Regions from separate parts of the Homo sapiens genome. Here regions 2, 3 and 4 are each linked to region 1. The links come from fine-mapping of genetic effects on gene expression. A gene starts in region 1. Each other region holds a variant in brackets. All regions are shown on one strand. Distances are between the middles of the regions. Region 1 holds the start of HMCN2 (hemicentin 2). Region 2 overlaps PTGES (prostaglandin E synthase). Region 3 overlaps HMCN2 (hemicentin 2). Region 4 overlaps HMCN2 (hemicentin 2).

Region 1 (8,101 bases):
CAACAGTTTCTGCATCTCTTGAGCTGCCCAAATATTTCTTGGGATGGTCTCAAACCATTCCTTACGGTCCATGTGACTTGGAGGCTGGTCCATAGAGGGGCTGGATTCAGCAGTAAATCATCTAGTGCTGGCTGACTGGAGCACTCGGCGCAGGCTTGCAGATTCTAACTTCTTGGCTCCTGCAGCCCATCCTCGGTAGCTTCATCTTCCCAGTTGTTTGTCAGTTCCTCCGACTTCCTGCTAGCCTTGTTTTCCAGGCCCTCGCTTAATTCTTTAATTTTTCCTAGAGGAACGAAACAAGGATTTGAAACAGTTTTTAATTCTCAGGCCCTGGGAGGGCAGAACCCCTGCTTCATTCCCGGGGTTATTTCTCTACCTCCTTTTTTTGCCCAGGCCTTCTGGTGACATATGAGTAGACTGTGACTTTCCAGCCTTTCAAAGGTGCTTAATGTCTGAAGCTTGAGTCAGAGTCCAGCCTGGGGAATTGCTCGAGAGGACTATGAGTGTCTGAGGAAGACACCGAGCTCCTGGTTAGTTCTAGAAGAAGCTCTGCTTGCTGGGATTCCTGTACAAATCATTGCCCCATGTTTCTGGGGCAGCATGGAGTGGTGAGGTGGGTCACAGGATTTGTGGGAAGGCACACGCCAACACACAGCCCAGTCCAGACACAGGACTTCACCTCTCGGAGCCTCAGTTGTCTCATCTGTTCCATGAAGAGGAGATGTTGACGTTAGAGGTTGCTGAGGGAGCACCTGAGGAGGGGGTCAGTACGGGGTCTGGCCTTCCCCGAGGCTCTGGCCAATCCTCTCCACCCTTAGTATTTTTACTCTCTCAGAGGAACAGAGAAGATTCCCTGAGGATGAGGGCTGGGGTGGGATGAAGTGAGTGGGGGATGTTAGAATTGCAGATTTATTTATTTTTATTTTTTGAGACAGAGTCTCGCTTTGTCGCCCAGGCTGGAGTACAGTGGTGCGATCTTCGCTCACTGCAACCTCCGTCTTCCAGGTTCAAGCAATTCTCCTGCCTCAGCCTCCCAAGAAGCTGGGATTATGGATGCCTGCCACCATGCCTGGCTAATTTTTGTATTTTTAGTAGAGACGGAGTTTCACCATGTTGGCCAGGTTGGTCTCAAACTCCTGACCTCAGCTGGTCTGCCCATCTCGGCCTCCCAAAGTGCTGGGATTGCAGGCGTGAGCCACCACGCCCAGCCTAGAATCACAGATTTAATGCGGCCAAGACTAGAAGGCATTTGGGGAGCAGGGAATAGGAAAGAGTAAGGAAGGGCGATTGGTAGGGAGAAGTCATTTCTCGTGCACTGACCATGTATTCAGAGTCCGGGGTTTTGATCTGGCCCCTCTGCACATGGATCCCCAGTGCAGACGCAGTGCATGGAACTGAGTTCATGAGCCAGGGCTGAACTCGGCAGGTTGAGCAATACCCGTGCCTGTTTCCTTTAAGTGGATGGCCCATAGCATATTTTTGCTCTCTGTAGCTGTCTGCAACAAATGTGCTACGTTAGGAAACAACTCCGCTGAGACCGCTTCTTCTGGAAAGAGAGGAGAAGTGTGGGGTTCCCAGGCAGCCTGCAGTCAAGTCAAGGTGGTGGGATGGAAATTGATTGATGAGGTTCAGTTGTGTTTTCTCTGGGCTGCTGCACTGCAGCCTTGCTCACTTTTGCTATGCGACCATAGTTACATTCTTGGGAAGCCCCGAGCACTCGGAGAGGATGGTGCTTGGGGCAGCACCTCCAGTCATCCTGGATGGGCATTGGGGTCAGGCCAGACATTACTCTTTGATGGAGCTATGGCAGACAGATGACAGGTGCCTGCTCAAGCCTCTCTTCCCTGGCAGTTGGGGGAAGCAGTGCCAAGATGAGCCTAGACTTCCCCTCGCATCCTTCCTCTGTCTCTGAGGGACCGGGGTGGTGGTTCCAGAGTGGTAAGGCTGCAAGAAACATCAGAGGTTATCTTGTTAGCCTCCCTTCCGTCTCAGAATCATTTTATGAATGAAGAGACCAAGCTCCCGGGAGGGGAGGGCTTTGCTCCAGGTAGCCAGGCTGTTTCAGGACTGAAATCCATGATTCCTTTTGCCCCCGGTGACCAGCTCGGGGAAAGGTATCTTGCTTTTTTTCTTTGGGGCCAGCTTTGCCCTTACATCCTTGATGGGTAGATTTGTGGCTTCCTGGCATCTACAAGGTCTACCCTCCAAACTTCTCTGCTGTGACCTGTCTGAAATGCACATCAAATCAGATGGCTTTCTGGCCTGCATTCTTCAATAGCTCCCCAATGTCCTCAGAAAAACCCCAAGTGCATTTGCAAGATACCAGAGGTCCTTTGTGATCTAGTCTTTGTTCTCAGCTTGCCATCCCCTGGCTGGTTACATAGGGCTACCTGTCAGTGGGTGTCTCAGATCTCCCTGCCTTCGCACATGCTGTTCCTGCTCCTCAAATACCCTTCCCTGCTTGTTCCTTAAGACTTCTCAGGCTCATTCTGTGGCCTCCTCTGACCTCTTAGGCTCAGTCACTCCTTCCTCTGAGTTCCCAGAGTGCTTGGTAATTCCTCTATTAGCACTTACCTCATTGACTTAGAATTATTTGTTTACATGTCTCTTCTCCCCAGAGTGGGAAGCATGTCTTCTGCATCTTCATCCCCCCACCCCCCGCTGCTGCTCTCGCTGCCTAGCAGAGTGCCTGACCACAGCTTGGGCTCAGCAAATGTTTGTGGTGTGAATGACCGAAGGACCTTTGTCCCCAAATGTTCCCTGCACTGTGCCTGAAATGTCACCATTTATGAGTCCTGCCTGGTTCCTGGCTCCTGTTGGCTTTTGCCTTCCCACAGCTGGGACCTCTTTCTCCAACAGCTGGCCCAGCCCTGCCCAGACTCTGGGGGTTATCACAGACTTAGCCCAGGGAGATTTAAAGAGCCAGCATTAAGAAGTGCAGGTGACTCAACTTCCTGTGAACTTGGCTGCAAGTTCCACTCCCTTGCTGGGTCTGGGCACCTGGTGGCACTATATTCCACGAGACTGGTAGCTCCGTGGGAGACCATTTCCCTCGGACCCCAGCTCTGGGCTAGAACAGAGTCCCTGCGGATGTGTGCTACCTCCCGCTGTGGCCAATGCCCAGCTGCCAAGCTTCTCTGATGCCTGCTGCCCCATTCAGGTGGCACACCTTCCTTGGGCACCTAGCATGTGCCGGGCACAGGATCTCTGCCATAGAACTCACAGCCAGAGTGGGAGAGGCAGGGCCCCAGACATGACATGGGCTGTACGGTGTGGTCAGAGCCAGGACAGGGCTCAGAGAAATGTGGGTTGCAGGGCAAGGGTTCAGAAGCAGCCTCAGAGGTGGGGTCTGAGCTGAGACCGAAGAGGAAAGGAAGAGCGTGGCGGAGGGGTGGCTTCCTGGCTGACGACTCTGCAGGGACAGGGGCTCAAGAAAGCGCCCCCCATCACTCACAGACCTAGAGCCCTCAGCCATGTCTCTGGGAGCATGGTGTTCTCGGAGGAGGGATTGAGGGGATTAGCTACCTTCTCGCACATGACTCAAAACCCGGCATTTCCACAAAAGCTGCGGTTTATTTATTCAGACAACATTAGTGCCTCCCCACCATGTGCTTGGATATGGGCTGGGAACTAGGGGCTCATCCAGTGTAGACCAAGGCCTAGCCGTGCCCTCAAGGGGCTTATAGGCCAGCGGGGAGAGAGGCCTGGAAACAGGTCCCGAGAGCACAGCCTGAGATAAGCAGCCGTGCCTGAGCCCATCTGGATCTGCCCGGAGCAGGAGGCTGAACCCAGTCCCAGGCAGCACCTCACGTGGGATGCAGCATCCACACATGCAGCCCATGGGGCTGGGGAGGTGGATGGGCAGGAGGATAGCCCTCATCCTCTGGAGTCACCAGGTGACCGTGTGACAATGTCTTTTAACACAAGGGAGGCAGCAGAGCCCTGGGCCTTTGGAGTCTTTCTAGATCTGGCCTCTGATCTTGTCTTCATTGTTTGATAATTGAGTGACCTGGAGCAAATGCCTTCACCTCTCTGAGCCTCAGTTTGCTCCTCTGTAAAATGGGCTTAGGGTTAGTATTTCATTCTAGGGTTGCAGCCAGTCTTCAAGCAAATAACTGAAAATGCTTAGAACATGGTTAACAACAAGACTTCTTGTTGATTATAATAGCAGTAGTGCTTGCAATAACCGGGAAGCACAGAGCCCACCTGGCAGAAGGAAAACGAATGGCAAAGTTTGTGTGTGTGTTGGGGGGCGGGGGTGGGGGGATTTGTCGCAGCACTGGGTGGAGGGAGCTGCAGAAGCCAGGGTCCGCTTTGGCCAGGCAGGGGTGGGGGGAGTTGGGGCTGGAGGGAGACTGGGGCCGTTGCGCCTCCCCCTCCCTCTCTCCCGCCCCCGGCGCGCCATCGGCGGGAGGCGCAGGTGTCCACTGCATCCTGCGCGTCCCCATCCCTCGCTGCCCTGGCCGGGGCCCCAGCTCCTTTCTGCCTTCCGCCCCGCGTCCTCCCCTAACCTCGGATCTGGACGGGCGAACAGTGGGGCTGGGAAAGTTTGAGTCACGATTGGGGGAGGGGAGGAGGCGGGCCGTGACCCTGAACGGGGTGGGCTCTAGGACCCGCCTCGGGCGCCCAGCAGGCGGACCCGCCGCGCGCCCCTATCCCTCGCGCACTGGCCGCGGCCCGACGGAGCAAGGCACTGCCTGCAGCCGCCGTGTGCACCGGGGCGGCCGGCTAGCTCCGACCTGCGCCTCCACCGCAGCACCCGCAGCCAGAGCCGCGCTCGGCATGATGCCCGGGGCGCCGCTCCTGCGGCTGCTGACCGCGGTCTCTGCGGCAGTGGCAGTGGCAGTGGCCGGGGCGCCCGGGACGGTAATGCCCCCCACCACGGGGGACGCCACCCTGGCCTTCGTCTTCGACGTCACCGGCTCCATGTGGGACGAACTGATGCAGGTGATCGATGGCGCCTCGCGCATTCTGGAACGCAGTCTGAGCCGCCGCAGCCAGGCCATCGCCAACTACGCGCTGGTGCCCTTCCACGACCCAGGTAGCGCCCCCGCACCCCCGCCCGCCGGGCGCCCCCTTCGAGGTGCTCTCACCTGCCTGACCCCCTCAGTTGGCCCCGAACGCACCTGGACGTCGTGGGCTGCGCCGCGGCTTGGCGGGCGCGCCTTCTCGGCATATCCGCGCTGCGGGTACCCTGGCCACCTGGGCAGTCCTTGCAGCTGTCCCTTCCCTCCCACCCCCCTGGAACATTCCCTCGCTCAAGGAACCTGCTCTCCCTGCTCTCCCGCGCCGTTGTGAGACTTCAGCAAGTGACCTCACCTTCCCGCGCCTTACCGGCCCCACCTATGAAATGGTGAGGATGGCCTCCCAGACTTGCTGAGATGTTGAAATGAGGCATTCCTCTCGAGGACTTGGGACGCTACGAGCCTTTGCAGGGCTTTTCCTTTGGCCAATTCTTAGAATTCGCTCCCAGCGGAGGCTTGGAGACCGGAATGGCTCCCAGAGGCAGGCCTTGAGACGAAATGGGGTCCACCACGGACCCTGCAGTGGGGAGCGGACTCACCCTTGCTGGTCTTGTCCCCTCGCCTGTCTTCCCTGGGGAAAGGGCAGCGCCTCTCGTGTGCTGGCCCCGTGGCCTCCACCTGCTGTGTTCTCACAGCTGAGTTCCGCCCTAACTCCTTCTTCCCTGCACGCTGCACCTCTGCTTCCCCTTTAACCCCCTGCCTTGCAGCTCAGTGTTAGGGGCGCCCTTGAAAGGGTCCCTGGGCGCTCCACTGTAGAGAGTCCCAGGGACAGCGGTTGCTGAGTGAGCTGCAGGTTCCCAGCGGCGAGGAGCAGGACTGCTTTCCACACTTCTTTTTTTTTTTGAGACAAGGTCTGGCTCTGTCACCCAGGCTGGAGTGCAGTGGCGTGATCACAGCTCGCTGCAGCCTCGAACTCCTGGGCTCAGGTGACCCTCCTGCTTCAGCCTCCCAAGTAGCTGGGACTACAAGCATACGCCACCATGCCTGGCTGATTTTTAAATTTTTTATAGACATGGAGTCTCTCTGTATTGCCCAGGCTAGTCTCAAACTCCTGGCCTCAGTGATCCTCCCACTTAGGCCTCCCAAAGTGCTGAAATTACAAGCATGAGCCACTGCACCCAGCCTCCCCAGCGTTTTTTAATGGAAAATTTCAAACTTACAGTAAAATGGGGAGAAACATACATGGAACCGCCTATGCCCACCGAGAGCCTCTGAGTCATATTTTGCTTTATCACATCTCTCTATCATTCACCCCTCTGTCAAGGATAGCTTTATAAAGCAACAAACAAACAAACAAACAACCCCCCCAAATAAAACACACACACACACACACACACACACACACACACACACACACGCACAGATTCCTTGCTAAATTGTACTGCAGAGTGTTCTTGTGCTGAAGAAATAGACGGTGGCCATTGGCTGTATGAGCCAGCAAGTCCTTGCAGAGGGATTTGCATTTATTAATCACAATACCATTACAGGTTCTTAGAAAATGGACAAAACAGTGGGAAGACATAGTTCTACGTAGGCTTCAGGCTGAGTTTGTGGTCTAGGGGCTTGGAGGCCCCTCTGCTTCCAGGAGTTCTGGGCACCACAGGGTTTTGCAGCTCAAAGCTCAGAAGCCAAGGCTCTAGACAAAGATTTCTAGGAACATCAGATGGACAGCTTCTATCTTGGAGTCAGGGGGCAACCAAGCTGGGGGTTGTGAGGAGGTGGGCTGTGAAGTGTGTTCTGGCACTTAAGCTGGAACACAGGTCACCCTCCGTCTCCCCAGCTCTCTCACCCACTTTCTGAATTGTTCTGGGGCTTCCGAAGACATCACACTGAAGGAGCTTAGAGATCGTTGAATCTACCCCTTTATCTTACAGTTGGAAAAACTGAGGCTCAGGACACTGATGAGACTTTCCCAAGGCCACCTGCCAGGGTGGCGTCATTCCTGAATCATAACCCACATTTGTCTCTGAAATATGTGGCTCCAGTGGCCCAGCAGGATAGCAGCCTTTCAGAGCCAGATGTCGTGTCCTGAAGCCCAGACCAGGGTTCCTGAGACTGTCCTCGCTGCCCCATTTGTGGCCATGAGCCTCAGGAAGCCCACCTCCCACCCCTGCTCTTCCCTCTCCTCTCTGGGCACTGAGCTGGTGGGCAGTTCTCCAGCCTTCACCAGGCTCAGCCCCCTCACTCCATCCTCTATGAAACAAAAATCCAGTTCTCCATCCTGGTTCCCCAAATTAGCTTCCGAGTGACACCCCCAGGTTCAGACGTCGGGGAGACTTCAGCACCATGGAGCCCTTGATCTGTGTAGAGCCCAGGGAGGCTCACAGTGTAAAGGGGCATGGTTCATTCCACGGGGCTGGTAGCCCTCTGGGACAGGCCAGGTGGGGAGTAGAAAGTGACATGTGGTGGCTCAGGTGCCAACTCCTGGCCATGGGCCAGTAAGCAAGGAAGGGGGCTAAGGAAAGACCCCCCCCTGAGGAAGCAGCCTGTGAGTAGGGCCTGAAGAACATCAGTGAATGTTTACTGGGTTTTGGCCGTTTGCCTGGCAGATGCCAGGTGCTGGGAACACAGCAGGGAGAGAGGACTCCCTGGGGCATGTGGAGCTGGCTGGGTAAGGACCGGGGGATGGACAGGAGGGCTGATGTGGAGGGACAGGTGTGTGTGGGAGCTGGGTGTGCACGGGAGGAGTGGAGCGGGAAAGTGGGGAAGGGCAAGATTGGACACAGCCGTGAGTGCAGGGCCGATTGATGCCTTGGCGGACTTGGATTTCCTTTTCCTTCTATGGGCTGTGAACAGCCACCGAGGGCTTCTGAGCAGCAGTTTGGAACTGTGATTTAGGCCTGGCTGTGCCTTTTGAATCAGCAAATAGAATCCCCTTTGGTGGAAGAGGAACTTGAGAAACGGGTTGTAGCTGTTTGTTCCAGCTCCCAGAGCTGCACAGCGGGAGGGTTTTCTTAAAGTAAGCCCCTCTCCTAAACCCCAAGAGGCGGGTGCGGGGCAAATCGTGGCGGTTCTAGACTGTTCCTGCTTGGAGACAAACTAAGATCCGTGCTTCGGAAATTTTACAGTTTCTAAAT
Region 2 (8,098 bases), 530 kb before region 1:
CAGCCCAGACACCATCCTGGGTACTGCCCCTCTCTTCTCTCCCCCGCACCTGGGTCCTCCAGCTCCTGGGCGAGTAGCCAGGGGACTGTCCAAGCCACTGGGGAAGCAAGAGCCATGCCACTGCCCACTGTGTCCACTGCCTGGCTGTCCACACCCCCTGCCCTCCCACGGCAGAGCCAGAGGTCCTCTTAGGAAACAAAGCCAGCCATGCCAAGCCCATCCCGGCGTGACCCACAGCCCCAGACTCCCTGATAAGGGCCAGAGGCTCGTGACCCCACACTGCTGATCCCTTTAGCCCCTCCCACACTTACACCTCATTTCTATGCCCATCTGTCTCCCACCCCCACCTCCCTTCCATACCCACCACTCCCCGACACCCACCCCCAACCCAGCCCAACCCAAGCCTCCCTTCCATACGCACCACTCCCACAACACCCTCACCCACCCCACCCCACCCTGTCTTCCTTCCATACCCCAATCCTCCCCCACACACATCCCCAACACCCACCCCACCCCACCCCTCCCTTCCATGTCCCAATCTTCCCCCACAACCACCCCGACCCCTGCCCCTCCTTTCCATACCCACCCCTCCCCCACACTCATCCCCAACACCCACCCCACCCCTACCCCTCCCTTCCATATCCACCCCTTCTCCACACCCCCCACGCCTCCCTTTCATACCCCATCCCTCCCCCATCCCCACTCCCTCCCCCTACCCCCACGCCCCTCCGTACATCTCCCCTCCACACCATCAACCCTCACACTTTTCCTCCCCAACTTTCCCCACCGCCCTCCACTTCCCAAGCTCAAGGTGGAGGGGTCTGGGGAGAGCTGCTGAGCTCTTCTCTTTGCTCCTTGCTTTCTTGGCTTGGATGGTCCCCTTAAAACCGCTCTTTCACCCCCCACCGCAGGTGAGTTGCCCCCTCCCCAGGCAGCCGCTCCCCAGCAGGGGTTAAAAGGCCCCATCTGCCTCCATCAGGGCGCTGAGCCTTGGGGTCATCACGGGCGCCGTCCTGCGGAGCCCGCCCACCCCAGGCTGGAGCTGCATGCATGGGGACGGGGGGCAGGATGAGGTTGCCACCCCAGCATCGGGCACCACCCCACCCTGAGGAGGCACTCACAAGCCGACAGAACAGGGGCGGTGCCGGGCAGGGGACCTCATGGTCTCGTGGTCTCTGCGGCTCCAGTGTGGTGGGGGCCGCCTCCTTCACCCACGCCCCAGGTTCACAGTATTGCCATGGGCATCCGATGCCCCTGCTCACCTGGGTCCGGTGGGTTCCCAGCAGGTTATTTTGCCCACAGAGCCCCTCTTTCCCCAGGAAGGAAAATATAAATATAAAAGCGCACGCTGCTGTGGCCAGGCACGGTGGCTCACTCCTGTAATCCCAGCACTTTGGGAGGCTGAGGCAGGCAGATCACTTGAGGTCAGGAGTTCGAGACCAGCCTGGCCAACATGGTGAAACCCTGTCTCTACTAAAAATATAAAAATTAGCCGGGTGTGGTGGCACATGCCTGTATGTAATCCCAGCTACTCGGGAGGCGGAGACAGGAGAATGGTTTGAACCTGGGAAGGAGAGGTTGCAGTGAGCCGAGATGGCACCACTGCACTCCAGCCTGGGTGACAGAGTGAGACTCCATCTCAAACAACAACAACAACAACAACAAGAATGCACGCTGGGTTCGCCTCCTGGATGGCCCCTGCCCTGGGATCTGTCCTCCCTCTGGCCTTACACTGTCCGAGCCCAGGGACAGCAGGCAAGTCACCTCTCCCCTGTGAGGAGACACCCCCTACAAGCCTCCTTCCTGTGAACCTTGCCTCTCTCATCTAAAAACCCTCACCTTCCTCATCTAGAAAGCGGAAATCCCTCCTGCCTCGGATTGTTTTGGGGATTTTTTTTTTTTTTTTTTGAGACATTTTCCCTCTGTTGCCCGGGCTGGAGTGCAGTGGTGGGATCTCGGCTCACTGCAGCCTCAACTTCCCAGGCTCAAGCGATCCTCCTGCCTCAGCCTCCCGAGTAGCTGGGACCATAGGCAGGCACCATTACACCCGGCTAATTCTTTTTTTTTTTTTTGGTAGAAAAGGGATCTAGCTCTGTTGCCCAGGCTAGTCTCAAACCCCTGGGCTCAGATCTTCCAACTTCGGCCTCCCAAAGTGCTTGAATTACAGACATAAGTTGGAAAAAAATCCAACTAGTATGCCCAGCCCAACGCTTAGCAAGCAGTAGGTGCTCAATACTGGATCGCGCCCTTCCCGTTTCTCTCCCGAGAGCCGCCGCGGCCCAAAAACAGAGGCGTCCCCTTACCACCAGGGGGCAGTGTTTCCCCTCTCAGCTCCGAACGGGACCCGGGGCCTCACGGCGCTTTCTGGCGGGGCCTGGGGTCCCTGCGCTGCTGGAGAACCCCCGGCACGGCAGGTCCCATCCGTTAGAGGGGCTCCGGCCTCGGGGTGCTGGGAGGGGGCGTTCAGGGAAAGTGAGGCCGTGCAGCACAGGGGCTCCGCCCAGGGACTTTGGCAGCCCCGACTTTCAGACCTGGCCCCGCACTTCCGGGCGCTGGCCTCCTGGAGTCTCCGTGTCCTGGTTGACGGAGCTGATAATGGCAGCCCGCGGGCGGGGCAGCCCCGCAGGGAGGGGTGACCTGGCCGGGGCAGGATTTGGGTGCTCCTGGCTCACCTCGCCAGATGCCACCTTACCCGCCCCAACGGGAGGCAGGAGGCTGCTGCTTGCTGTGTGATTAACACCCAGCCAGGGCGCGTTGGTGTCTGCGCCAGAGATCTTGTCCCGCCAAACTGGCTGTAGACAGTCACCGGCAAGAACGCCCAGCGCGCTGGAGCATCAGGCCAGCTTGGGCAGCAGGGAACACCAGGAACGCGCAACCCAAGACGAGGTGCTGGGCCCAGCTGGCAGACACTTCCATTTAATGACTAAAAATCACACATCTCAGGTCACGGGTCTAGGAGAAAACACACACACACACACACACACACACACACACACACACACACACACACGGATTCCCCATCAAGGGGACATTTGCAGTTTCCAAACCTTGAAGATACTGAAGGGACCAGAAAGTTCCTTTGAGTGGCTGGTCACCCAAAGCTCCCGGTCCTCCACCCACTGCCCTTTGGAGGGACTCAAACCTTGGGAGGAGAAGGCTGAGCTTCCTGTGGGCCCCTCCCACCCACACCTGAGCCAGAGAGAAGACTGCAGCAAAGACATCCAAAGCCAACGGCAAGGGAAGCGTCAGCGGGGGCAGAGGAGCCAGCCCTGTCCTTGGCTCACCCAGCTTCCACCATACAGGAACCCAAGACCCCAGCCTTGCTTCCACAGAGAACTGGCAGGGGTCCCCTGGCCTGGCCATCACAGGGACTCACATGGGAGCCTTTTAAAACTCCAGATGGTGGCTGAGCACAGTGATTCATGCCTGTCATCCCAGCACTTTGGGAGGCCGAGGCCGGTGGATCACTTGAGGCCAGGAGTTCGAGACCCTCCTGGGCAACATGGTGAACCCGTCTCTACTAAAAATACAAAAATTAGCTGGGTATGGTGATACGCGCCTGTAATCCCAGCTACTCAGGAGGCTGAGGCGGGAGAATCGCTTGAACCCGGGAGGCGGAGGCTGCAGTGAGCCAGATTGTACCACTTCACTCCAGCTTGGGCAACAGAGCAAGACTCTGTCTTGGAAAAAAAAAAATACAGATGGCCAGGCTTGCCTCTAGATTGGCTGGGCCAGAATTTCTGGGGTCAGTCTGAAAAGTCTGCATTCTTAGCCCGGGATTCAGATGATCATTAGGTTTGGGAATCTTAAATAGAGTCTCCCTTCTCTCTTTTCACTGTTAGGGAGGGAGAGGGAGTGATGTTTTTGATGCTCTGTTACTTTAGCTGAAGGATTTTCTATCAATCTTCACAATCTGTCTTGAAATGGTTCCCATCAGCCACTTCGTGCAGGAATCCAAGGGGCTAAGAAACATACACACACACATACACACACACGGGCACACACACAGGCCCACTGTGCCCAGAGACCCACACGCGCAGCAGGCTGCCAGGAAACCAGGACTCAGGGCCCACCACAATCTGGAAGGAACATCAAGTCCCCAGGTATAGCCACGGCGGCTCTTGGCCCATGGTCTGGTGGCCAAGGAGGCATCAGCTGCTGGTCACAGGTGGCGGGCCGCTTCCCAGAGGATCTGCAGAGCCATGGAGGCGCAGGGGAGCTGGGCCAGGGTGTAGGTCACGGAGCGGATGGGTGCCCGCAGCTTCCCCAGGTAGGCCACGGTGTGTGCCACACGGCCCACGAGGAAGACCAGGAAGTGCATCCAGGCGACAAAAGGGTTAGGACCCAGAAAGGAGTAGACGAAGCCCAGGAAAAGGAAGGGGTAGATGGTCTCCATGTCGTTCCGGTGGGCCCTGGGGAGACAAGAGGGGTGCGGTCAGCCAGGTATTAGCTTTGGGGCCATAGGCCCTTTTGAGAGTGTCATGGAAGCTGGGGGTGCTTTGACCCACTGGGGGTCATTTCAGGCATATCACACACTCAAATCCATTCACAGCCAGGTCAAGGAGATGGATACCCCAGAGTCCAGAAGAAGGCAGCTCCAAGCTTATGCTTGCAAGCAGCTGAGGCAGCGAGGCCACGTCATGGGCTGGGAGTCAGAGGGCTACTGGTCCAGGATGCTCTTACCATACCTCTATGGCTTGCCGGGACCCCACTCCTGCCATACTCTCCCCCACCTTCCTCTCTAGCCCTTGGATACCAGGCAGGAAAAGTGGGACTCAGAGGTGCTGAGTGCTTTACAGAGCCAACGAGTGGAGGAGCTGGGATTGGAACCGAGTTCTGACTGGAGTTTGTGCTCTTTACCTCCAGGGCAGGGCTTCTCTGAGTCAGGCCTGAGGTCATCCTCCTTCTGAATGCAGCTTCCTGGGCCCCTCCCGAGTAGAAGGGGCTAGAGCCCAAGAGCAGGCCTTTGAAATGAATGCCGGGCTCTGTCTCCTTTTCCCCCTAAATCTAACTACCACCTGTCCTTTCAGGGACAATCATAACAAGATCCGCTCCCACTCACTGGAGCCAACC[G/A]ATGGCCAGCCCCCGGTGAAGCTCTTCATTTTACACATCCTTTCCTGCCTCTTTTTCTGTTGAAAGGAATCAAGCATGTGCATATGTGTGGTGGGGGCGGAGGGGCTCTGTATAACCCCACCATAAATAAATGACCAAGAAAGAAAACTCAGAAAACTCACCTACTTCTGCTGGTTCACATTTTCCAGACTCCTACTAATGGCCGGCTTCCTTTATGAAGGGTGGGGAGGTTGAGTCCCATAAATTAGAGACTGAATGAGCAACTAAACCCATAGATTGCCACATTGGAAGCTCAAATAAACAGGAATTCAGTGCCCAGGGCATGACCTCCCCCAAGGACAGGCCACGCGTGTGAGGTGCAGGAACAGAAGCATGTTCTCCGGGCCTTCCTGCTGACATACATTCCACCAATAACACCGTCTCCTCGGGCCAGGCCCAGACTAGCAGCACTGAGTGGGGACCCGCTGCAGGGTCCTCCTCTTCCCTCTCACTGGCAAGACGATTCTTGGGCCAGTGCGATGGTGTGTGGGCCTGACCAAAAGGAAAGAGGGGGCCTGGAGTGCTTGGCCACCCCACACTGTAGGAAGCTCTGCAGCGTGCCTGGGGTGGGGGTGGGCAGGGAAGGAGACATATGTGCAGAAGCCTGAATGATGAGAAGCTGGCCCTGCAGGGGAAAAGCATTCCAGGAAGGAAGACCAGTGTGTGCAAAGGTCCTGAGGTCACAATAAGCACAGCATGTTCAATGTGCAGAAAGGTGAGCCCATGGCTACAGTGCGGTGCACAAGAGGGAGTGAGGCAGATAAGAGAGGGAGAGGAATTCAATCTGAGTGTACAAAACTCCTGTAAACCCAGCAGGGCCTAGATCTTTCTCAGGCCAAACTCAGGACACAGCACCTGGCATCTGGGTCCGCATATCCCGAGACTGACATGAACCCCTCTTCTCCTTTTCCCCCAGATCCTGACCTTGCAACCCAGACACAAGGAAAGCAAGTCTGTGGCAGGGCAGTTCTCACCCAGCGGTGGGGAACACTGTGGCCTGCCTGTGTCTGTCAGAGGCTGGCTCTGGATAGATCCTGGGGTACTGCCCTCAGGGAAGACATAAGAGGGAGATTACAGACTCACGCCTGTAATCCCAGCACTTTGGGAGGCCAAGGCGGGCGGATTACCTGAGGTCAGGAGTTCGAGACCAGCCTGGCCAACATGGTGAAACCCTGTCTCTACTAAAAATACAAAATTAGCCAGCCATGGTGGTGCATGCCTGTAATCCCAGCTACTCGGGAGGCTGAGGCAGGAGAATCACCTGAACCGGGCAGGTGGAGATTGCAGTGAGCTGAGATCATGCCATTGTACTCCAGCCTGGGCAAAAAGAGGGAAACTCCCTCTCAAAAAAATAAATAAATAAAATAAAAGAGAGGGAGAAACCAAAGACTGGGGCCACCTCCCTGTCAAGTAAGTCCCTTACCAGGACTGATGAGGAAAGGCAATAGGTGTTCCTCCAAAATCACTCCATCCTTGGCCGGGTGCAGTGGCTCATGCCTGTAATCCCAGCATTTTGGGAGGCTGAGGCTGGTGGATCACTTGAGGACAGGAGTTTGAGACCTACCTGGCCAACATGGCAAAATCCCATCTCTACTAAAAGTACAAAAAAAAAAAATTAGCTGTACATGGTGGTGTGTGCTTGTAGTTCCCAGCTACTCAGGAGGCTGAGGCAGGGAATCACTTAAACCTGGGAGGTGGAGGTTGCAGTGAGCCAAGATCGTGTCACTTCACTCCAGCCTGGGCGACAGAGTGAGTGAGACTCTGTCTCAAAAAAAAAAAAAAAAAAAAAACATAAAACAAAACAAAAATCACTCCGTCCTCTGGCAATTGAGCTGTGGGTACCCACATCCCCCTACAGGCTGATTAGAGGGACACCCTTGGAAAACCCATTTTTGATTATGTCCCAAAATGAGGTCTGCCTGTCACAAGTGATTCACAAGGGAGTGCCACCTGGATGAGGAGTTTTGTAATGTTTATTTGAAAGTTTCAGGAAAAGCACAACCAGCATATGCAACTCGTTCACTCAGCTATTCCTTAAAGTATGTGTTGATATTTTAAGAGTAAGTCCTTTGGGAGGCTGAGGCGGGCGGATCACGAGGTCAGGAGATCGAGACCATCCTGGCTGATATGGTGAAACCCCATCTCTACTAAAAATACAAAAATCAGTCAGGCGTGGTGGCAGGCGCCTGTAGTCCCAGCTACTCGGGAGGCTGAGGCAGGGGAATCTCTTGAACCCGGGAGACAGAGGTTGCAGTGAGCCAACATCGCGCCACTGCACTCCAGCCTGGGCAACAGAGTGAGACTCCGTCTCAAAAAAAAAAAAAGAGTAAGTCAATGTTTGGAAAGCTGTTAAGAGAATCATAGTACAGATAGTTCACAAACATAGCCAAACCCTGAAGAGTGGGTGAAGGAAAGAAGTTGGGGAACACAGGGTGGGAAGGAGGAACAAGACGGGAAGTTCATGGCAGACGTGGATCCTGCTCTGCCTGGCATGTCTGCAGGCTGGGGAGGAGCAGGCCTTGCAGAAAAAGCGGGGACTGAGCCCCACCTTCTATTTCCAGCCATTGGGCAGCAATTCAGCGGTCACCAGCGTGGGAGGAGAGGTGGTCAGGAGCTCTGACTGTCAGCCCCTGGGGCTGGCCCAGCCCTCCCTCACTCGTCTGGTCTGTCTCAAACCGCAGAGGGGCCCCTCCGAGGCCGCAGTGGCCAGGGACAGGGAGCAATGGAGACACCAAGGAATGATGGAAGAAAGCTCACCTCCCTCCTCCCACCTCCAGGCTCCAAACCGAGAGACATGGAGGCAGGCACGTACCACAGACGTGCTCGGGTGAAATGCATCATTCAAATAATAACCATTTTTTTAAGGTAAAAGCCACCCAAAGCAAATTCCTACTAGACTGGACTTGTATTGCCTCCTGCAGCATCAGGCCTGCCTTCACCCTCCACAGACTTTTCCACACCAGCTGCATTTTCCTGCATAGGTGAC
Region 3 (8,101 bases), 58 kb after region 1:
GGAGCTCAGGACACCTCCAAGAGAAAGCCTCTCTGGCCCAGGAGGAGGCGAGGGGTAGGGGAGGGTAGGCAGGGGTAGAAATGAAGGCTCACCCTCAGCTCCTATGTCAGCGGGTCACAATCAGACTGAGAAACACTCCTTAGAGCCCCTTGGAGGGGCTTCCTGGGAGGTGTCACAGCCAGGAGTGGGCATGCTGCTCCCTCCCCTGCACCTCTGGGGTAAAGCCAGGCCCCTGAGACCCCACGCACCATCCCACGAGTCACTCCCTCTGCCTCATCCCAAGAGCTCTCCAGGGGTGGATGCCACTCAGCACAGGTTGACCCTGGAGCCCTGGACAGGAGTCGAGCCCTAGGTTCACAAGGGCAATAGTACAGGAGGAGGAGAGGGAGGCAGTTCCTTGGGGACCTGCCGCTGAGCAGGTCCAGCCTCCGGGCATGGTTGACTGGTCACCTCCCTGCAGATGCGCCCCAGCTGACGGAGCTGCCCCGGGATGTCACTGTGGAACTGGGGAGGAGTGCCCTCTTGGCATGCCGGGCAACAGGCCGCCCGCCCCCGACGGTCACCTGGCGCCGCGGAGATGGCCAGCCTCTGGGACTCAGGCTGGGGGCCGGGCGAGGCAGTAGGTCTCGGCAGCCGGATTCGGGAGTGCTGTTCTTTGAAAGTAAGAGATTGGGGCTGGTGGGGGGTGGGCAGGGAGACAGGATGGCCTCTGACACCCTAAACCCCAGGCCAGGTGGCCGAGAGCAGGACCCTGACCGCCAGCACTGACCATAGAGCAGAGGCTGATACGCGGTCACACTTTGGCTGGGTGGCTCTGGCCAAGTCATTCCACTACTCTGACCCTGTTCATAATCACGACCATGAAATCTACTACCCACCTGGCTGATTAGCAGCCACTTTATGGGGCTGTTGTGTGGATAATCTGTACAAAGTGCTTAGCACAGTTCTTGCCACATGCTGTCACACACATATAAGCTACTATGATTACCATAATTACTACTGCGCCTACCCTACCACCCACTCTTTACTACACGCCAGGCCCAAGGGCGGGCACTTTGTCAACCCTGCCCCATCACACTACTACAAGGTACAGGCCAATTACCCCCATTCCACAGATGAGCAAACTGAGGCTTTCTCACCTTCCAAGGTCCAGCGGTGTCCCTCACCCCTTCCCTCTCTACCATCCCAGCCTTCCCTCCTGAACCTCTGTAAGGCCAGGCCATGCCAAGGGGCTGTCTCTGCACCTGGGGAGCTGGAGCCCATGGGGGCTGCAGCTGTGGTGTGCCTTGGCAGTCACACCTGCCTCTCTCGTGCCCCTCAGGTGTGGCCCCAGAAGACCAGGCCCCATATGTCTGTGAAGCTCGAAACGTCTTTGGGAAGGTCCAGGCTGAGGCCCGGCTCATCGTCACTGGTCACGGTTCGCTGGTGGATCTGAGGGCCGTGGGAGGTGGGAGGTGGGAGGCAGGTGCTCCCCGGGGGCACAGCAAGGCCGTGGGCGCCTCCAGGGAGCCTCTCCTGGCCCATCTGTTGGAACAAACGAATCCACAGCCAAATTCTCCAAGAGCAGCACCTGTGCCCCTGCGTCCTGGACAATGTCCTGGGGGTCCTGTGACCCTTTAGGATCCCCAATTCTGATGCATCTCTCAGTTCCCTGGGGAGGGAGAGGGGAGCAGGAGCCTCTGTCCCCCAGACAACCACCCAGGGCACCTATTGTGGCTGACACCGGCTCCTCTCCCCACAGCCCCGCCACAGATCGCCAGCAGCGCCCCCACCGTCCGGGTCCTGGAGGGGCAGCCCGTGTCCCTGCCCTGCATCGTCCTAGCTGGGCGGCCCCTCCCGGAAAGGCACTGGCTCAAGGACGGCCGGCCCGTGAGTGTCGGGCTCCTCTGGGTGCGGTGGGCGGTGGCACCTGGGGAAGAAGGAGGCTGTCACAGCCACGTCTCTATCTCTGCTTGGCTGTTTCCCCGCCTGGGAGTGTCCTCTTCCTTCCACCCTCTTTTTGGCCCCATTTCAGAACCTTCTCTGATAATGCACTGATGGTGTTTGTTGCCCTCTAAAGTCCCGCCGGCTGTCAGATGGGTCATGGCTGCTGGACCCCTGGGAGCTCTGCAGGGCAATCGTGTGCCTCAGGAGTGCTGTGAGCCAGGGAGCAGGGATTTAGTGGAGGCCCAGTCTCAATGCAGTGGTCTCCCCGGTTCTTATGATTCCAGAGCAGGGATGTGAGCTGTGCGGTTTCCTATCTGCCCCAGACACCGGCGCGCGCTGAACGCACAGTGGTTGCCTTATCAACCAGTTCACGTCCATTTGATTTTCTTGGTGTTCTTCTGTTTGCCCTCTCCTATTGACTCTTTCATTACCTCTTCCCTTTCCTCAATTCTTCTGCCTGGTCTCAGACACACCAGGTCCCTGTGTCCTGCAGGCTGCAAAGAGGTGCCTTCCCAACTCTGCATTCCCAGGAGAGACTCTCGTGGGCCCAGCTTGGGTCAGGCTCACCCTGGTCCAGTTGGCCGAGGGAGAGGTGGGGTCAGGGTATGTAGGGGTCAGGCCCACCCAGCCCTGCAGGGTCTCTGGAGGGCTTGACTGGGCACTCGGGAAGGACTCACAGAGCTCCTCAGCCTTCTCTGAGCCCCCGGGCTCTCAGTCCTGGCTGCTCCCTACTGGCCTGATGAGCAGCATAGTTTCCCGAGGGTTCTTTCTCAGCTGCCTCTGAGTGAGGCCCAAGGCTAAGCTGGTGCTTCCTCACCCCCACCAGCTCCCACCTGGCAGCCGGCATTCCATCCGAGCAGACGGCAGCCTCCACCTTGACCGAGCATTGCAGGAGCACGCGGGGAGGTACAGCTGTGTGGCCACCAACACGGCCGGCTCTCAGCACCGGGACGTGGAGCTGGTGGTCCAGGGTGAGTCCTGGGGTCTCGGAGGTGGTGGTCGTGGGGCAGGGAACATGATGGGGTGGGGGAATGTGCAGAGGTAACTTGATCTTGAATGCATTTGCTTTAAAAAATCGTGCAAATCATATATATTCTCTGTGGGAAAATTAGGGATTTGACAAGTTAAAAAAATACTCTCATAATACCAGTAGCTAAGAATAACCAGATTTTGCATTTTGGCATGTATCTTTTCATACTCTATACACACACACTCTCTATATGTATATCACACACACCTATGTGTAGTATATATATACACTATGTATACATAGAATATATATTCTTTATACATTTTACATACAGATTCTTTGTATGTTCTTATAAATTACATAAAAATTATCTATCATCTATCTATCTAATCTATCTATCTATCTATCTATCCATCTATCTATCTATCTATCCATCTGTCTATCTATCTATCTATCCATCTAATCTATCTACCTGTTTACAAACCTATTTAAAAACCAAATAGGATCACATGCTGTCATTGTCTTGGCACCTAAGTGTTTCCATGACAAGGTGTTATGGCTGTTCTGTTTTCTGTCAATTAAGATTCAGAGGCATCAGTTTAATAAGGGGATGATCATGTCCCCTGATTATCTAATTACCTGATTATCTGTACTCCCCCCGCCCAACCGCATCCCCCACACCCCGGGTATGAACAGCCTCGTACCTACACATTGTAGGTGACCACGTACCTACGTGACCAATTCTTTCCTTAGGATAAACCCATTAATGTGGATTAAGTTTTGCATCACAGAGATTGTACGTTTTTGGAATTTTTAGTGTCTTGCCCAACTGCTCTCCTGCCCACAGCACTGGGTTCTTTTATTCACCCAACTGGAACCACTGTGCTTTTTAATGTAAGATGAGACATTTCAAATTAAATTTGGTTGTATTTTGTGATTTACCAAGTATGTTAATATCGTCTTTTTTCTTGTTTGTTTCATAAAGCCCCCAAGGGATTAGTGGGAAGAACGCGCGTTCCCCATTTTATAGGGGAGTGCAAAGTTCAGAAGGGCTGGGTTGAGCGCTCAGGTGCAATTCTAGGTGCCATCCCCTCATAATTCCAGATCCAAATCGCCATCCAGGGTGGAGTGTGTACCACATGCCAGGCATCTGCTAGTTTCTATATATGATTCCACTCAGTTTCACCCCCTAACTTCCCACTGTGCCCTCACAGCCGCTTCTGTGGGGCTAACATGAACAGGCTCAGTCTCTCTTGGCTCAGTTCATTTCTATTCAGCAAATATTTATGGGCCTCTGCTGGCTGTGGCGACCTGGGAGTCCAGAAGTCCATTTTCCTCCCTAAAGGAGCTCCAAGTGCTAGCGTGAGAGCCCCTGGCTTCTGGATTCCTCTCCTGGCTTCTCCATGCCTAGTTACCCCTCTCTCGCTCCCCTTAGAGACCCCGTGTTCAAGCCTGCGAATCTGAGTGGTGCCCAGGGTGGGTGTGACACCTGTTTTTAAGCTCACTGTGTTCTGCAAACACTGCTCATCTATCCATTCCAGAAGGGACGACCAGGGAACTGGGGTTAAATTAGCTTTTGTGCTGATCAGGGAATATGGGTACCAAAAGATTAAGTGGCTTATCCAGAGCCCCAGAGCAATGAATCAGCGCAGCTGGTTCCCAAGCACATGCTGCCTTCTGTATGGGGAAGACAAAAAAACTGACGATGGCAGGCAGTGGTGGCTCAGGGATTGTTCCAGTTTTATTCTCCCATTGAAAGCTTTTTTTTTTTTTATTTTACTTATTTATTTCTGAGACGCAGTCACTCTGTTGCCCAGGCTGGAGTGCAGTGGCATGATCTTGGCTCACTGCCACCTCCACTTCCCGGGTTCAAG[C/T]GATTCTCCTGCCTCAGCCTCCTGAGTAGCTGGGATTACAGGCATGTGCCACCATGCCCGGCTAATTTTTGTATTTTTAGTAGAGACGAGTTTCACCATGTTGGCCAGGCTGGTCTCAAACTCCTGACCTCAGGTGATCCACCTGCCTCAGCCTCCCCAAGTGCTGGGATTACAGGCATGAGCCACCGTGCCTGGCCTGAAAGCTTTTAAAATTGTCAAATATACATAACATAACGTGTATCATTTGACGATGTTTAGGTGTGCAGTGGTGTTGGTACATTCACATTTCACACTATCACCGCTATCCATCTCCAGGACTTTCTCATCATCCTAAACTGAAACTCTGTCCTCATTAAACATTAGCTCCCCATTCCCGTCTCCCCTCAGCCCCCTGGGAGCCACCCTTCTGCCTCCTATCTCTATGAACTTGCGTATCTAGGGACTTCATAGAAGTGGAATCTTACAGTATTTGTCCTCCTATGTCTGTGATTTCACTTAGCATGTTTTTAAGGTTCATCCATGGTGTAGCATGTGTCAGAATTTTATTCCTTTTAAAAAAACAGACTGGACTTTTAAGAGCAGTTTAAGTTTATAGAAAAACTCAGCGGAAGGTACAGAGATTTCCCACATAACCCTGGCTCCCGCCACGCGCAGCCTTCTTCACTGTCAACATCCCCCACCAGGGCGGCCCGTTGTTAGCACTGAAGACACGTCATCATCACTCCAAATCCCATAGTTTACATTGGGGTTCCCTCTTGGTGGTGTTTATTTGTTTTATTTTTTATTTTTATTTTAGATGGGTTCCCTCTTAGTGGTTTTTTAATTTTTTATTTTTTTTGAGATGGAGTCTCACTCTATGGCCCAGGCTGGAGTGCAGTGGCGCAATCCCAGCTCACTGCAACCTCCACCTCCCGGGTTCAAGTAATTCTCCTGCCTCAGCCTCCTGGGTAGCTGGGACTGCAGGCGCCCGCCACTGTACCGGTCTAATTTTTGTATTTTTAGTAGAGACAGGGTTTCACCCTGTTGGCCAAGGTGGTCTCGAACTCCTGATCTCTGGTGATCCGCCCACCTTGGCCTCCAAAGTGCTGGGATTACAGGTGTGAGCCACTGCACCCAGCCTTGGTGTTGTTTATTTTGTGGGTTTGGACAAATGCAGTGACCCATCACTGCAATATCACCTGGAGTAGCTTCACTGCCCTAAAAATCCTCTGGGCTCTGCCTCTTCATCGCTTCCTCCCCCAACCTGGCAACCACTGATCTAGTTTTGTCTTTTCTTCTTCTTCTTCTTCTTCTTTTTTTTTTTTTTTGTAGACAAGAGTCTCACTATGTCTCCCAGGCTGAAGTACAGTTGTGCAATCTCTGCTCACTGCAACCTCCGCCTTCCAGTTCAAGCAATTCTCCTGCCTCAGCCTCCCGAGTAGCTGGGATTACAAGGCATGCACCACCATGCACAGCTAATTTTTGTATTTTTAGTAGAGGCGGAGTTTCACCAAGTTGGCCAGGCTGGTCTCGAACTCCTGACCTCAAGTGATTCTCCCGCCTCAGCCTCCCAAAGTGCTGGGATTACAGGCATGAGCCACCATGTCCGACTGCTTTGCCTTTTCCAGAATGTCATATAGCTGGAATTAATTGCCTTCCTTTTTAAGGATGAATACTCTTCTGTTGTGTGCACACACCGCATGCTGTGTGCCCATGCATCGCTGATGGACATTTGGGCTGTTTCTACCTTTTGGCCACTGTGAATGATGCTGCAATGAGCCTTGGCTTTGACATTGGTTTATTTATAACAGTGCCACCTAGAATCCATCCCACTGCCACCCACCATATCACCAATGAAGGGGTTGCGGCCTCTCTTCCCTGCGTCGCTTCAGGAGTTCCCGCCCCCACCATCACGTGGACCAAGGTAAGCAGTGCCTGTTACCGAGAGGATAACTGGAGAGGTAGGCCCAGTGTGTCATGGGGCGGAGGTGTGGGCTTCGCCGATGTCACCTGTGCCTCTGCCCTAGGAAACCAATGCCCTGACCTCCAGAGGTCCCCACTACAATGTGAGTAAGGAGGGCACCCTGCTCATCGCCCAGCCGTCTGCCCAGGACGCAGGGGCCTACGTCTGCACGGCCACCAACACCGTGGGCTTTTCTAGCCAGGAGATGCGACTTTCTGTCAACAGTGAGTGATGCCAACCCTGTCCTGGGAGAGGGGGCTCAGTGGCTGTGGAGACAGAGAGTCCCACGTCAGCCCTGTGGAGCCTGAGGCAGGGAAGCTGTTGCATCAGCAAGTCCTGCAAAGACACGTGGCTCTGCACAGGACCCGCGTCCCCAGCAGCCCTCTCCCCGCCTCTCTCTGCCCCAGACCCTCTGGTCTCCTTTCTGTTTCTGGAATGGTCCAACCTGCCTCAGGGCTTGTGCACATGTAGTTCCTTCTGCTTGGAATGCTGTTCCCCCACCTCTGGGCCCAGCTGACTGCTCCCATCTGTCAGATCTCAGCTCTCCCTGTTCCCCCAGGCTGGTCAAGTCACCTTGCTGTAAACTGTGGAATATCCCCTTCCTGGCACCCGTCACAGCTATGATTCAATAATTAATCACACAGTGAGCTTTTTGGTACCACTATTGCCAAAGGACCCTAAAGGCTGTGAAGATGGGGCGGGACCTGTCTCCTTCGCTGCCGTCCGCAGCATTCCCCATAGGGCTGGCGCTCAGTAAATACGTCTGGGAGGAGTGAGCAAATGTATAAGCCAGGCTTTTTCTCTCATAGACCCTTACAGTCAATATTTTTATATTGTAAAAAAAAAAAAATTCCTAATGGGGGAGCATTTCCTTTGAACTACAAATGTACGGGGAACACGGGAGGGCTAGATGGGTTTTGATGTCCCCAACTGGCTAGCTTCTTTCATTGTTGCTGCTCAGACAGGTAGCGAGTGCCTTCCTTGTATGAACTCCAAGGTAGAAAGGCGGAGGCGGGGAGCGGGGAGGAAGGAAGGGTACCATGCTGTTTCTGCCGACGAAGGGTCTTCAGCTTAAGGTGAGAGAGACGTGACATGCACAGATTGCCATCAATCCCTCACCAGGCTTCGAGAGGTCCAGAGGGAGGGTCTGTGCATTCTTTGGTGGCTGATATCATGGGAATAAGTGAATGAGCAAGGGGAGAAGGTAGAGAGAGAGGAGGAGTTCAGAGCCTTTCAGAATGTCCCTGGGGAAGGGACAGCAGGATGAAGAGAAGCCAGAGAAGGCACAGACCGTAGGGCAGGAGGGACCGGGTCAGGGTCCTCAGAGCAAGGTGGTGGTGGGGAGGTGGGTAGGGGAGGACTGAGTGAAAACCCTGGGACCTGAGTCCC
Region 4 (8,101 bases), 27 kb after region 1:
CCGTGAAGTTTCCAGGGACTGGGCTGTGAGTCCCGATGGCCACAGCCTTCCCAGCACTTTACATTTCCCAGCTCAGAGCAGGTGCTGGGTAAATAGCTGGTGAATGGACAGGGTCCCTTGTGCTCAAGTCCCTGGTAAGAGGAAGGAGAGAGAGGCAGGGTGTCTGAGGCTGGCCATGGCCTTGAGCCAGTCCTGCTTTGTTGCCTCTGGGAGAGGGTTTTGTGTGTGTATATTTACGAGCTGCAGAGAGCTATCTCCAGGAGTGTGTTTAGATTAGCGTGCCTTAACTCCCTGTTGACAGATGGCGTTTATGGTTCTCTGCGACACTTTAGGCTTCATTTTTTGGCATGTCAGCCTACCCTCGCACCGAGTCACCCAAGCAAGGGTGGGAGGCATTTTACAGTGGAAGGATGGGTTGGTTCTTGCTCCTGGGGAGAACTATCTGGCCAATTGCATGGGAACTTGGTTCCTGCCAGGGGCAAATCAGACACAGGGCAGCTGGGCAGGTTGATGGGGGCCACTCGCCCAGGTGTGAGGCTGGGCTGTCCTAAGCCTCTTCCTTGAGGCTGGGAACCTGGGCAAATCCACTACTCCCAGCTGTGGTGCCAGCTTTCTGCTGTGACAGTCTGGCCGGGCAGCATGTGTCTGACTCAGTAGGACCACCAGTGGCCAGAATTGGCTACCTCTAAGTAGGGGCCTGGAACCCTCTCCTTCCTGGGCATGGAGCTCTGTTGTTCTTTAGCTTAATGCCTTGGACATAGCCTCTTCCAGATGTTCCCAGACATTCGGCAAGCCTGGGAAGGTGGCTGGACAGCCAGGGCTGCGGTCACCCTCCCAGGAGAGATGAACGGTGCCTTCACCCTAGCCAAGGGGCCTCCAGCTGGGAGAACTCCCCAGAAGTTGCAAAAGGCTCCAAACTATGCGTGTGTCATTAATCCTTTTACCTCTTCAGAGTGCATCCAGTGCAGCCCAAGAGGCGTCATGCATTCTCTTCCCCTTGTTTGCTGAGCTCCTGCCCCGGGCCAGGTGCAGCTCTGAGTGCTGGTGCAGAGTTGGCCATCAGTCACAGCTAGGGCTTACTGCTTTGGAGCATTTCACTTTTTTTCAATTGTGAAGTTGGCCTCACTAGTACCTGGATCACCCCTTGGGGTTGCAGGGTAATTAAAGGAAGGTGAGGATCTCTCCCTGGTAGGGGAAATTTGGAGCTTTTATAATCCTTAAACAGACAGGGGATCATGTCAGAGGCAGGCAACGTGGCCCCTTGAACCTGCCCCAAAGGTGTGCATTTTTGATTAAGACTTAGACAAGTCCAAGCACCTGCTGTGCCAGAGCAGCCTCCCCCAAGTTCCCTGGCAGACACAGCTCAACGCACTGTCACTAGCCCCGACAGTGGTGGGGGTGGGGCCAGCAGAGCTGGGCAAACTTGCCTGTCCTGCAGCTCCCCCGTGCCTGGGAAAGCCCCTCTGTCTTTTTTTCCTGGGAGAGCACTGGGCATCTTGCTCTCCTCTGCATCCCCCACCCCACAACTCACACGTTCCAGCACGGCTGGTTCTGGGGGCTGGGAGCCTTCCCATGTTCAGCACCAGCAGGCACAAAGGGTGAATTGCCTGTGTTCTGTGCATCTGCTAGGAGAAAGGTGTCCTTCTAAGACAGTAAGGGCGGGCGGAAGATGGGGGGGTGAGGGGGAGCTGCTGGGGGAGCGTCTGACCAGGTGGCTCTGATTAAATTCATCAGCAGGGGCCCAGAGATGACCTCATCCTGGACCCCTCCCAGGGGGAGGTGGTTAGGGTTTGGACTCCGGGGCAAGAGGCCTGGCTTCAGACCTCGCAGCCCTGCCACTTACCTGCAGGGTGACTGCCAGCACAGTCCTCAACCTCTCTGGGCCACACTTTCTTCTTGTGTGCAGTTGGGTTAACGAGAGCCCCTACCTGGTGAGATGGTAGCCAGGGAGAGAGGAAGCCCTTGGTAAGAGTTCACGATGGCTAAATGCCATCCCACCCCCCCGTGCTTCAATGTGGAGCCCAGGATATGTCCCTCAGTTCCATCAATGCCCCCTGAAGACTAGGAACTCTCTCTGAAAAAGATTCTCTGCTAGGGCGAGTGCCCAGGGTGCCCAGCTGGCAAGGGGCAAAACCCCCTGACTAGGGTTCTCTCTCTGTCACTTCACGGTAAGCCTCCTGGCACAGGGCCCAGGACCCACAGCCCCATCCTCTGTGTTCTCATCTGTGCCTCGGGGGCCCATTCGCCCCCTGGCTTTCCTTCCCTGCTTCCTCAGCCGCCCTGGCTGTCAAATGTTCTGGGAGGATCCTCGGGGATGATTTATCTGCTGCGAAGGGTCGAGCAGCAGCCATCTGGCTGGGGGAGCACTGCCAGATTTTTCGTTCCTTCCCCATGGGTGACAGAGATGAGCCCCAGTGCATCGCAGGCTCGCTGGTCCCCCAGCCCCTCTAACATCTGGAAGCCATTGCCTTCACCAGATGAACATTGAGCTGGCTTAATGAAGGCTCTCTGCGCTGGAGCCCTGGCACCACAGGTCTAGAAGGCAATGTCCCCAGGCCTGGCCCTACAGGGGGGTCTGGCCCTGCTGTGGGCAAGAGGGTCAGCCCCCCAACTCCCAAGTGGGGATATGCTTACAGGGCAGGCCATCCTGTGGGTCACTGGCTTTCTGCCTCGTGTCCCAGCCCTCTCTGTGGTTCAGTAGTCTGAATTGCCGAGCATCTTCCCTCCATCAGAACATCCTAGAACAAGCTTGTAACAGCAGTTACGACACAGTAGCGGGTGTCACTCCTCTGGGTAATTGTCGACTGGTGCTTTGCTCAGTGATGCTTCCCTCCTGACCCCTGACAAGGCCTGGCCCGGGGGAAGGGGACGGTGGTAACGGACCTGCTTCTTTGCTGTTGGAGGAGTTGCCTCACATGTTCGGCGGGCTTCTGTGGGCCTCTCCAGCTGGGAGTCCTCAGCCACTGCTCCCTTCTGTCCACCCCCACATGGACGAAGAACCTTGTCCTCATTCCTTGGCTAAGACAGGTGGGACCTTTTCAAGAGACACATTACTTAGAAAGCTAGGCAAGACACAACAATGAAGTAGCTCCAATTATAAAAACAGATGCATTTTCAGAATACAGAATTCTTGTCACGTGATAGTTGAAATCTAGCCATAAACTTCTAGGCACATATCTTCTAGCTCAGTCTGAAAAAAAAAAAAAAAAAACAAAAACCCAAAAACCTCATTTTCCAATTCTTTGGATTCCTTTCCCTTTTTGTAGAAGATCACATGGTAAGCAGAGCTGAAGGACTATGATTTAGAGCAAGAATGACCAATAAGTAGCATGCAAGACACCACTTTTAAAACCCATATTCATGGCAGACATTGCTAATCAATCACAGACCTTTTTCTACTTGGGGCTGAATGTGGCTTTGCCTTTCTTCTTCAGCTTTCCAGGAAGCGTTTCCCTTAGCTTGGAGTTGGCAAGCAACAGTATACCACTGTGATTGTTCAGGTGTACATTAAAGTCACAGCATACTTGCATACTTGATTTTTGTTTGTTTGTTTGTTTGTGATGGAGTTTTGCTCTTGTCACCCAAGCTGGAATGCAGTGGCATGATCTCAGCTCACTGCAAACTCTGCCTCCTGGGTTCAAGCAATTCCCCTGCCTCAGCCTCCTGAGTAGCTGGGATTACGGGCGCCTGCCACCACACCCGGCTAATTTTTGTATTTTTAGTAGAGATGGAGTTTCACTGTGTTGGCCAGGCTAGTCTCAAACTTCTGACCTAAGGTGATCCGCCTGCCTCGGCCTCCCAAAGTGCTGGGATTATAGGCATGAGCCACAGTGCCCGGTCGCATACTTGTTATTTTTAAATGACTTTACTTTAATAAAAAATTACTATGAAGAATTTCCAAGATGCAGAAAAGTAAAAAGAACACACCTACCAACTAGATTCAACAATTGTTAACATTTCTGCTCGACTTGCTTTATCTATCTCTTTATACTTTTTGCTGAATCATGACACCTTATCTATAAATAATTCAGCATGGATTTCTGAAAAAACATAGTCTTCAACATAACCCACAATATCGTCTAATAAAATTAATGAGTTTCCTAGTATCATTCTATACATAGCCCATGTTCAGATTTCCCTGTCTTCAAACTGTCTTTGATCACAGTTTTCGTCAAATCAGGATTTCATCAAGGGCTGTGCATTTCCTTTGGTTGTTATGTCTATTAAGTCCTCTTTGGTCTGAAGCCATCAGCTCTTTTTTTATGACACTAAGCTGTTCAAGAGGCATGGATTTGTACCCTGTCCCATGTTCTGGATTCTTCTGATTATTTCCTTGTGGTGGCATTCACTTTTTTTTTTTTTTTAATCCCCTATGTTTCCCTCAAACTGGATAAGTCCAAAGGTCTGATTTGATGAAGGCTGAACTTTTTGGCAGGAATATTTCCTAGTTGGTGCTGAGTGTGTCTTCTGTTGTATCACACCGGGAGGCAAATAGTGTCTGAGCATCCTACTATTACTGATGATAAGTTTGATGACTGGGTGAGGGTGGCGACAGCCAGCTCTCTGTATGGTTGGGCTGCGTTTTTGCCTTTATGACTCAAGTGGGTAATGTTCTCGCTCTGTGCGGACATCTAGTTCCCATCAACTTTTCATCTAACAGTTTTAGCATCCACTGAGGACTCTTGCCTGAAATGATATTTCATTAGGGGTTGCAAAATGATGATTTCCTAACTGCATCATTCCTCCCACATTTATGAGTGGGCATTCTTCCAAGAAGAAGAACTTTTATGCATCAAAAGTGACGGATAATTTGGTTTCTCTGAAGTACAA[T/C]TTCTGTCGAAAAGGCACGGAATCACACTTAGTTCTTTCTCTTCGATTAAGGAGTCACTTCAGTTGTGGCAAGGGAGGCTTTACTGTTTTGAATTTTGCTTTCTCTTTTTTGAGTATCATTATGTGCACATGGATTATATTATTCAATGTGTTTCAATTGAGCACAGTTATTATTCTCTTTTGGGCTCAAGTTGTCCCAAATTTAGTCAGTGGGAGCTCCTTCAAGCTGGTTCCTATGTCCTTTTGATATGTCCCTATTTGTCTTTGAGAACTTCTTTGTTTTATGGAATAACCCATCATCCCAGGCTCACCTTATAAATTGCCTGCCCCAGACCTGGAATTAGCCACTTCTCCAAGGAACCCTCGTGGGGAATGGTATTTAGAAACCAAGATCTAGGTACTGGTGGTGATCATTGTTATTGAAACTTTGGGCCATCATTGCTTCTGGATCAATTGCTCTATCTATCTATCTATCTATCTATCTATCTATCTATCTATCTACCTACCTACCTGCCTATATACCTACCTATCAATTTATCATCTATCTCTATCTGGAGAACTTATACTGATATTTCCAATTCAAATTTCACATTGTAGATCTTTTACTTAGCTCATTTGATTTGATACTTGCAGCTGTCTCTTACATTTGTTTATAAGAAAAAAATCTTGATTCTGAAAATATTGACATCTTTACTTATTTGCTTTATCCAACAAGATATATAAAATGGGTTCAAAATCACAGTGCTGATAGTTCTTCCAAATAAAATCTACTCACTAAAGTTTTTTTTTTTTTTTTTTTTTGCGGTTCTTGTTGTCCTCCTACTGAGAAAGGATAGTTGAACCGCCGGGTTTGGAATTCACTTGGAGATGTTCTTTTCTCTCTGTGGTTGTGGTACCGATTTTATGGTTGAGCTCACTGTCTTTCAGTTTTAGGGTTTGCACAGGATGGACGCTCTTTGAGATAACTTGGCCTGGAAAGAGAAGGTCCAGACTTGAAGGGGCTCCCTTCCTCTCCCTCTGTCTTGGTTTCCTTGCTGGAATCTAGGTGACTTGGCTATTGCAAAGGAGGAGGTGTGAGCTGGGGAGAGGAGGGGTATGGAGTGAGGTGCCTGAGAGGTGGACTTGAGGTCAGCCTGATAGCTCTGCCCAGGAGATGCATGTCCTACTGAACTCACACAGCCAGCAGGTGCCTCCTGAGCACTCACTCTGTGCCTGGCAGTGAGCTCAGGGCTGAGACACACATGGGCACAGCAGAGGTTCTCTGCCCCCACAGAGATCCCAGGCCAGTAAGGATGAGAAGCCCGAATCCAATAAATGTGAATGACTGGAGTGCAGATTGCTGCAAAATAGTATGTATCAGGGAACAGAGCCTTTTCAGGATTAGAGAGGGCTCTTCAAGCAGCGAGCTGAAGTATAGCAAGGAGATGGTCGATGAGGAGGCAGGGCATTCCTGCAAAGAACACGGCATGTATGGGTGGGGGCTGCCTGCGGGAGGGGTGGGGTCCAGTGTAGCAGGCAGGGGGAGGCAGTGGCACAGTGACCTTGGGTTGGCATAGGTGCCTAGGACCATAGAACCTAGGGTCTTGAAGGCCATGGTCAGGATTTGGAGAAACTAAATAAGTTTGTGCTCAGTTTGTGGTAGGGGGAGTATCTCTGAGGGAGTTTGGGAACCTCCCGAAGTCATACCCTAAATGTGTACCTAAGGGATAGGATGATATCCCAGGCAAAGGGTCCTTACCTTTTATCTGATTCTCAGTGGCACTTGTCCAAAAGATGTAAGACTTTAGAATGAATAATCAATTATAGAAACCAAGGATTTAGGTCTTCTCAATATTGCAAAAATCCATCCAGCAATTCCTTACTTCTGTGGACTGGAAAGAGACCTGAAGTCTTTGCAGCAGTGCCTCTCAGTCCTGCTTAGGGAACGTGGCGCCCTGGTGGGAGCACAGTTGGAGGCCCCTGGGATAATCAGTCATGAACTACATGGGTCTGGGGGAGTTTCCAGATCTCCAGGGTTCATTGTGTGTAAGAGGCACCAAGAGGGCTTCCTGGAGGAAGTGTGGGTGCTGTGGAAGGAGGCCAGGTGGAGAAGTGTGGAAGAGTCTTCCCAGTAGAGGGACACACCCTTGCTCCTTCCCTCTGTGCTGAGTCCTCCGAATGCCTCAATTCAGGCTTCACAGCTTGGAGCCTATGGAAGCCAGGAGGGTCACAATGTGTGAATTGGGCCTGGTGTTGGACATGGAGGAGTGGGGTGGCCTTGGGCGACCTGGAAAGTTTGTATGCTGCCTAAAATCCATGGGAGGGGGAAGACATTGTGGGCACCTGCCGGCATCAGCTCCTCATACTTGCCTCCAGGTGCTGAAGTGGGTGGAGTCAGCGATCCAGGCCTCCAAGGTGCACCTGCTGTCCACAGACCACGAGGAGGAGGGGGAGCACACATGGAGACTCCCCTTTGACCCCAGCCTGAAGGAGGTCACCATCTCATTGAGTGGGCCAGGGCCTGAGATTGAAGTCCAAGATCCGCTGGGTATGGACCACCCCGGGGCTGGCCTCCTCTTTGGCCCCAAGACTGAGGTGGAAGCCCAGGATGGGACAAAGAAAGAGACCAAGGGTGACAGGGCTTCAGACATGAGGCTCCAGGAATAGGGAAATATGGGGTGGGGGGGACACGAAGTGGAGAGAGGGCGCCCATGGTGTGCGAGGAAGCAGGAGGGCCATAGCAACCGGCGATGGGAATTAAAGTAATGGCGGTCCCTGCATCGTGAGACTCTCCCCAAGTCTTTTCCGTGGTACCCCAGTGGATTCTCATGGTGGTGAGAACTTGTAGCATATTGTACAGATGGGAAGCTGGGGTTCCAGGTGCTGAGTGCTCATCAAGGTCAACAGAGTCAGGGGAAGTGTGATTCAGACATGGTCACCTGACCCCATGGTGTTCTGAGGATGTCATGAGCACCCAGGTCTAGAGGCCGGGCACACAGTCTGCCCCTGGGGATCCCTGAGGGTGGAGCGTGGAGTGAGGCAGTGGCCGAGGACCACCAAGACCCCTTGTCACTTCCGGGAAGACTGAGGCTAGTGTTTGGTGTACTGTGGATTCCTGGAGACATGCGGGGCTCCTGCCACCCCCAGCAAAGGGTTAGGGACTGAGCAGCCCTTGGGGCTTCCACAGGGAGGATCCTGCAGGAGGACGAGGGCCTCAACGTGCTTCTCAACATCCCTGACTCGGCCAAGGTCGTAGCCTTTAAGCCTGAGCATCCGGGGCTGTGGTCCATCA

Evidence for each region. PIP is the estimated chance that this variant, and not a neighbour inherited with it, causes the effect.
Region 2: its variant is fine-mapped to the expression of HMCN2 in prefrontal cortex (BrainSeq, PIP 0.95).
Region 3: its variant is fine-mapped to the expression of HMCN2 in esophagus muscle (GTEx, PIP above 0.99).
Region 4: its variant is fine-mapped to the expression of HMCN2 in lung (TOPMed, PIP above 0.99).

What each region holds. Positions count from the first base shown.
Region 1 is chr9:130,261,097-130,269,197 of GRCh38, forward strand. HMCN2 (hemicentin 2) reads left to right here and starts at 4,664. Exons shown (of 98, transcript NM_001291815.2): 1 at 4,664-5,041. The coding sequence starts at 4,783. LOC124902285 (a long non-coding RNA gene) reads right to left here and starts at 5,793. Exons shown (of 2, transcript XR_007061817.1): 1 at 5,320-5,793; 2 at 1-1,944. RefSeq lists an enhancer at 7,552-8,101.
Region 2 is chr9:129,735,449-129,743,546 of GRCh38, forward strand. PTGES (prostaglandin E synthase) reads right to left here. Exons shown (of 3, transcript NM_004878.5): 3 at 2,901-4,412. The coding sequence ends at 4,163. Among named protein-coding and RNA genes, the nearest start is that of PTGES, 14 kb to the right of the region's middle. RefSeq lists enhancers at 1,994-2,243, 7,249-7,749. The variant G/A (reference allele first, on the strand shown) is at 5,074.
Region 3 is chr9:130,319,035-130,327,135 of GRCh38, forward strand. It overlaps HMCN2 (hemicentin 2), which reads left to right. Exons shown (of 98, transcript NM_001291815.2): 16 at 461-661; 17 at 1,322-1,417; 18 at 1,742-1,869; 19 at 2,753-2,897; 20 at 6,561-6,673; 21 at 6,777-6,936. Among named protein-coding and RNA genes, the nearest start is that of HMCN2, 57 kb to the left of the region's middle. The variant C/T (reference allele first, on the strand shown) is at 4,771.
Region 4 is chr9:130,287,670-130,295,770 of GRCh38, forward strand. It overlaps HMCN2 (hemicentin 2), which reads left to right. Exons shown (of 98, transcript NM_001291815.2): 5 at 7,186-7,357; 6 at 7,997-8,101. Among named protein-coding and RNA genes, the nearest start is that of HMCN2, 26 kb to the left of the region's middle. RefSeq lists an enhancer at 1,772-2,340. The variant T/C (reference allele first, on the strand shown) is at 4,831.